Homo sapiens: one gene and its partner. The protein of the gene in region 1 purifies or fractionates together with the protein of each later gene. This does not show direct contact. Each region holds a gene or a part of one and is shown in the gene's direction. Other genes may lie near its edges. The genes, in order: CTTNBP2 and CTTNBP2NL.

Region 1 (3,828 bases):
AATGTGGATGACAAAGTTCTGTTGACACTTTGAAGAAGTCTCTCCTACCATGGGATCTTAGTGGTTGGTGGAGATTGTTGGTTCAAATGGGAGAGAACTTTTATAATTACAGGAAGGTTTGAACAGTTGTTATATTTAATACTTTGAGGGGAGAGAGAGAAAAGCAAATAGCATCATATTTGCTAATTATCAGGTGATGACAGCAGTACACTAGGATTTATTTGTCCAATTATAAGCTATCAACTTGAAATTAAGGTCTTTGAGAGGCTTTATCCATATTTTGAGGGGCGAAATAGGGAATTGGAAGCAGCATGGACTTGGAAGTTAGATCTATGTTGAAATCTAGTCTCTGCCATTTACAATTGTGCATTTTTGGTGACTTCTTTTGCTACTCATATGGGGGAGGGTGGCTGTTAGGAGGATTGGATCCTATAACCTGTCAGCTTGGTATTGAGCTTAGAATAGCATGAGTAATCAATAAATAGAGGTGATATTACTGCTTCAATGATATTGTTGCTTACAGTATTTTTGAGAATTTGCTATGGAATTGACTTTAGTATTATTTTGAGATGTCTTTACAGGCATTCAGCATTCTATATTTTTGATCCAAAATGGTATTACTGAGTTGAACAGCTTTTCTCGTGGCCTAAAATAATTTTGGCTGTTTCTTACAAATTAAATCCACCCTCAGAGAGGAATTTTGCTACTCAGGAGAATAGAGAATGTACTATAAGATCTTTGGGCAGTCACAAAACACAAGTTCCAGAAATGTGTGGAGCAGTGGCAGTGCTATTGCCATAAATGCATAGACTGTAAAGTAGAAAACACTTCCTAGGATATAGAAGTTTTGTCACTTAAAAAAAATACAAAGCCATCTTTACTTTGAGACCTTGAGGCTTTGCCACTTGTTGCCTTAGTCATTACTGTGGTCCTGGGTTTAGCTGCATGTGCCCTTTGGTTTCGGCAGAGAAGCTTTAAAACCAGGATCTATGACTGAGGAACATTTTGTCAACAGGATTGAAAAGTTAACGGATTAAAATCTGTTAACTTTTAAAGACAGAGATTTACTAATCTATTATCTATTCACCAGGATATCCTGCCCTAGGATTCAGTAAAATTTTACATAAAAGAGCTATAACTCCTCTGAAAAATGCCCTTCACTTATGTCTGGAGAGCAAAAGACAATATAGACCAGAAACCAAAAAAAATACCAGCGACTGAAGATACGGAAATCGGATTCCTTATTTTCTACTCTCTGACTTTTGCAATTTTACCAAAGTATTTTATTTATTTATTCCTCTCAGAACTTCTGAATTACTTTTGGTAGAATAACCAGTTTCTATGTCATTTGCTTAGAAGATGTGGCTTATTAAGGGAGAACGGAGGCACTGGAGGCCTTGAGTCATTCAGCAAGTGTTTACTGAGCACCTAGACTGGGAAATGGAAGTGTGATTACACTTACACAATGGGGGTGTACGACTCTACAACTCAAGTATAAATGTAGTTCAGCTGATCTTTCCAAATAAGATAGAGGATTTCAACTCTGTTTTGCATTTAGATTGCCCCTATTTTCGCCACTGTGACCATTGCAACTAAGAAACACCAGAGCTGCCTCCACCCTGCTTACTAACCTGTCTGTGCCTGGTTGAGCTTGTGCCTCTCCAGGTCATGAGCCCTTTGAAGGGGATTAACCTTCCAAACAGCCACTGATTCCATTGTGATTGCCCAAAGCAAGGCACAGGGACAACACACATCTGTCAAATACCTGGCAGGTGTCTCTTCCAATTTCAGTGATCAAACAAGCACTGAACTAAGTATAGTAAGGCAGGATTAGTCCATTTCTGCCCCTTTCTAAGTATCACCCTAGAGAGCTAATTCCCTCTGAGCCATTAGCTTTTTCATTTAAAAACAAAAGCATTGCTGGCTGCAGTAATCATACCTGTAATCCAAGCACATTGGGAGGCCGAGGCAGGAGGATCACTTGTGCCCAGGCGTTCAAGACCAGCCGGGGCAAAATGGCAAAATCCCATCTTTACAAAAAATATAAAAATTAGCTGGGCATGGTAGTGTGTGCCTGTGGTCCCAGCTACTCAGGAGGCTGAAGTGGGAAGATCACTTGAATTCGGGAAGTCAAGGCTACAGTGAGCCATAATCATGCCACTGTGCACCAGCCTGGGTGACACGGTGAGACCATGTCTCAAAACATTAAACCAAAATTATATAATAATATTCCCGAACAAAAAAAGATTTAAACTTGCATGATAAATTTTCAAACTACCTCTCCCTCCTTGGAGAACTACTGGCCCATGATCTTTCCAACTCTAGAATCCTGTGTTTCCATGTAAGCTTTTATCTATAAAAATTATGACTAAGTTAGAGCCCCAAGGAAAATTGGAATGACAGAAGTTAGCCTTTTAATGAATTGTAGTATAAATTACCCAAACTCTATTTGGCAACCTTTATAGCCAAATGTTAAATTTTTTAATAACATTCTTAATTCTAAATGAACTAGAATTTCTTGTTCCTCCTGAACTTGCCAAATAGACACATTTCAAATGTTAGATGAACAGAAGCCTAAACCAGAAATCACTCCAGGCAACTGAGTTTCCATACCCTTGGAAATTGTTTTTTCTGTTTTTTCTTTTTTTATTTGATACATTTGATTTAATTTGGTTTACACCTTTTCCCTATTGAAACATATCTTTTAAAAATTATCCTCCATGTATGATTGGCTTAAAGGCTAAATCAGAAAACAAGAATGATCTGGGCTATGACATTAACCTTCTCCACCCTCTGAAGCTGATGCCAGAAGCTGTTCTCACTCCTTCCCTCTGCCATTGCATGTCCAGTCATTCCCTTCCTCCTGGCATGTTGTGCAGGATGCTCACCTTACTAATGTTTGCGTATGACACTGCAAAACTGATTGACCTTTTGCTAACATCATTAGAGTAGCTGTATGAATACCGGTCTGTTCTGTCTTAACCACTATTTAACCTCTTAACTAAGTATTACCATTTTTATGATTGTCGGGAATTTCAGATGAACAGTATAGTCTCATGATGAAGTCCTATTTTTCCCATATTTAGGCAGGATTTATTAAAATAAGCTTGTCTATGCTAGACAACATTGGAAATGTTAGTGAAGATATAAAACATATTTACAGTTTTAAAATACTTGGTATTTATAAAGCATTTTTCTTTTGTAAAGATTTTAAAAATATATTGCAGACCTCTAAAAAAATAAGGCAACTGATATATCTTCTGTAGTTCTGTGTAAGAAAACCCTTGAGTGGTCTAAAGATTGAAAACAAATTGAAAAAAAAATTTGTCTTTCGGATAACTTATTAAAAATAGGGTTTCCCAGGAAATTACAGCTGCAATTGAATATTTCCATATAAGGCAGTTGAAAAATATATTTAAACTGTCTCCTCCCCTCAAAAGCCTAGATTTATGGTGAAAAAAGAAAAATGTAAACAAAACCCAAAAGAATAGCAAACCATTTACATATATTGGTATTCATAAAAGAATATCAACAACCAAGACCCCTTGGATGAGATCTAAAGAGAGAATGAAAGAGAGGCTGAGTATGAGCCCCATTCCCTCCTGTTCCACAGAGGACTGTAGTGCGATGCCTTCATATTGCCTGTGTTTGCTTTGCAGTCGAGGTTTTATGCCTTCGTGTTTATAATTTCTCTGTTTATGCATTTCTAATAAGTACTGATTTAATTTTTGTGGGCCTGTTTTTTGTTTGTTTGTTTGTTTTTAAGAAAATACAAAAGGTAAAATGTACCAGAGAGGAGCCTTCTTGTAAGTATGAAGTAAAAATACT
Region 2 (3,554 bases), on another chromosome or scaffold:
AGTTTCCTGCATAAGTTCTTGAACAGAATGAAATCACATCTCCATTCAAAAAATGTCTCAAGCATCTACTGTTGTGTAAGGAACTTCTGATTCTGATTGCTGTTACTTGAATAGGAAATGGTTACTCATTCTGTATAAAAGTTTTGCAAGAGAATGAATTTTTTATTCTGTAATCAAAAAGCAATAACTTGAAATTCACTCTGTAATATTATAGGTCAGTCAGAATTATACAAGTTTTACCAAATTGTTACACTTATTCTCCAAGCTGCCAGAACCTGGTATCTGTATCTGTAAAACCAAATTAACTTTTGCTTAAATGGGAAGTATACATATATCTGTATAGATACATTACCCCTTTACATGTTTAACATACACACACTTAAACACATAAATACTAGTGTGATTATATCTTTGGAGTTTGCAATATAGCATAAAGGACAAGTAGAACTGCACATTAAGATTACCTACCGAAGCAACTAGATGTGGCTGGGACACAATCAAAGGAGGAATTTTGTCCACAGGAAGGTGAGGAAATTCCAAATGAAGCCTAGATCTTCAGTATCATAAAAAGGCAGAGCTGGCCAGGCACAGTGGCTCATGCCTGTAATCTTATCACTTTGGGAGGCTGAGATGGGAGGATCTCTTGAGACCAGGTGTTCAAGACCAGCCTCATCAACATAGTGAGACCCCATCTCTATTAAAAAAATAAATAGGCAGAGCTAAACTAACCCCAGTGTCACAAAACTCAACTGGTCATATAAATGAGTGAAACAGGCCTCTCACACAAGCGATGTAAAACAGCTGGGAGCAGTGGGAGCTGTGGCAAACTAAAGTGCCCAAGCCGCATTTAAAAAGGGCATCTGTTCAGCTCCATCTGCTTGCTGCGGTGCAAGAATGCTAAACCAGGATTACCAGTTCTTCACATTTTTTGAAATCCAAATTTTCATGAGAAACATTCTCATTTTTAAATATCAAGAAGTGATTTTAAAATGTTTAAATGGTGCTGGTTAAACAAACACGTCTGCAGCTGGATTTAGCTTGCAAGCTGCCAAGTTGCAACCTCTTTCATTCTAGAAACTTCTGTCATTTTCATCATAGCAAGTCTATGCGGACAAAAGCCTCCAAACTTTCCAACTGTGTAGGCCAGTACAGCTGGCAAGGTTCATAGAATATAATGGCTATCCCCCTCTGCCAAATAAGACTATCCACAACCCAGCTCAGACACAGTGGTTATATGATTTTGTGTCCATACAGGAGAGGCCTTGGTGTCTTCACATACATTCTCTGAGCCAACATCTATCCAGCAGCCCTGACCTCCTGCTATAATTTAAGTCTATTTCCTTTTAATCTAATAAGAGTTGATAGTAAAAAGGCAGGTGATGGAAATCAGTGTATAAATCACAATGGAGTATATTGGCAACTCCACAGCTTATAGTTTGATAAAGGCAAATACATGAAAAATAAAAATGCTACTAATGCCCCAAGGTGTCTATCAAAATGATGTAGGGGGTATCTTAAACTGTCCAAGGCAATCATGCATTGAACTTTATTCCTATGCAGAGCCAAAACGAATAGTGTTGATAAAATAGCTAAACTTTCTAAACTGGAGAGGAGGCTACAGTGCCAGAGAGTTATTGTCTCTTTTGCTTTAAATGGTAATCTTAAAAGTTGCATTGTGCTCTTCCTTTGTTTTGGGATAGATATATATAGAGAGAGATACTATAAGGAAGTTTATTTCTTAGGAAGTGCACTGAATAATGTATTTCTTTTACAGTGTAATATGGGGGTGGGGATATGCGAAAGAAATGTGTATTTTTGCTAGTTGCCTACCTTCTGAGATAAATAAGCACAATCTTGCAATGGATCCAATAACCCAGTTAGGTATTATAGATTAGTATTTAAGTTTGCTGTAGATTGTGTGTGTGTGTGCTAAGTAAAAGTTCCATGATTCACAATTTTAGTATTAACCCATGTTGCAAAAGCTGTTACTGGCCAACAGATTGTAATGATGTGTACCATATAACACAAGCATTAACTAGGCATTAACGTTTGTAAAGCCAAATATACCATGCAGAAGTCTTCATTTTTATAGCAGACTGCATTAAAACAAGTTAAATCTTGCTGTTTGGGGGGAAATAGTCTTGTTTGTACAAAGTGAAAAATGGCACAATTTGGGCATATTTTGTTGGGAAGAGGGGGTGGTGTAGAGGGAGCACTTGACTGTGGCTTTGACAAAACAAATGAAGTCAATGACCCATCCAGGTTAGACTCCATAAGGAACTAAGACATTGATTTTCTTTAGAGTCTTAGAGCTGGAAAAAGCCTTTACAATAATCCAGTCTGTGATTTTTTAAACCTTTTGGTGGTTCTGGACCTTTTTGAGAATCTTAGAAAAGCCATGGAGTTTATCCCTAGAAAAATGAATATGCCTATATGCAAAATTTGTTTGATGGCTTCATAGGATCCAAAGACCCTGAAGCCATCCATGGCTCATGTATTTCTGCTTAAGAAAGCATAATCTTGTTCTGCTCTCTCATTTTACAAATGATTAATGCATCCCTTTTCAACTACTCCAGCGCTGTTGCTGCTGCAATGTTAGCAAATGCAAGCCAGAGAGAAGCACTTGAAAATCCTTTGATGTCTAAAAAATGTTCAAATAGTGTGGATGTTTACATATCTGAAGTTTTCAGCATTTAAGCAAATTAATGATCATTTCAACAAATACTAGCATATCCGGTTTCCCTTAATAGCCTGTCAGCAGTGCTGCCTTGTCAATTTGTGTGTGTGTGTGTGTATGTGTGTGTGTGTGTGAATTCATAAGGAGTGCTTCTGATGCTTAGTCCTTGAAATGGAACTTCAACTGTCTTTCAAAACACTGGCTTCAAAATAGGATGTGTTTTCCTAATGAATCAGAAGTGGGCAATGAGCATTGTTCCACAGGAATAATTTTTAATTTAATTTCTATAAAACTAGTTGAGAAATGAGAGCCTGTCCACCCACCATTTGTGTATCAGTGGCCAATTCATTAGTAAAAATAAAGGAGGGGAAAGGAGACTGGAGTAGTGGTTCTCAAACTTTACTGTGCGTAAGTATAACCTGGGAAGCCTGCTAAAATAAAGATTTCTGGAGATTAGATCCTCAGACTAGCTGATGCAGCTAGTCTGTTTTGAGAAACAGTCCTTCATAGCCCTTACCTGTTCTTTCACAACAACTTGCTATTTGCCTCTGACCTAAGGAAATGTCTTAAGCTCCTGAAACTGGTTTGGCAGAATGTCAGTGATATTCAGAGTCAAGAGTGCCTACTTGAGTACCAAGCACCATGCTAATGATTTCACATACATATTACCTTATTAATCCTCACACGGGTGCTGTGAGGTATTATTATCCCCAGTGTAGTGATGAGGTAGTTGAGGGCCAGAGATCTGTGCAAGGGCCCTTAGCATATGACAGCCAGGATTTAAACCTTAGTGCTTTGTTCTTTCACTACCAGTATTTCCCAAATGAGAGTCTCTGGGGAGGAGCAGATTCCCAGGCTCCTCCCCTGGCGATTCTGA

What was found.
Region 2: the proteins of CTTNBP2 (region 1) and CTTNBP2NL purify together in Homo sapiens (affinity purification with mass spectrometry; one large-scale study listed by BioGRID and IntAct). This does not show direct contact.

Annotation. Positions count from the first base shown.
Region 1 is NC_000007.14:117,786,364-117,790,191, reverse strand, and holds part of CTTNBP2 (cortactin-binding protein 2), read left to right. Parts: intron 1-3,828. UniProt on the Homo sapiens protein: Regulates the dendritic spine distribution of CTTN/cortactin in hippocampal neurons, and thus controls dendritic spinogenesis and dendritic spine maintenance.
Region 2 is NC_000001.11:112,458,111-112,461,664, forward strand, and holds the end of CTTNBP2NL (CTTNBP2 N-terminal-like protein), read left to right. Parts: 3' UTR 1-3,054; downstream 3,055-3,554. UniProt on the Homo sapiens protein: Regulates lamellipodial actin dynamics in a CTTN-dependent manner. Associates with core striatin-interacting phosphatase and kinase (STRIPAK) complex to form CTTNBP2NL-STRIPAK complexes.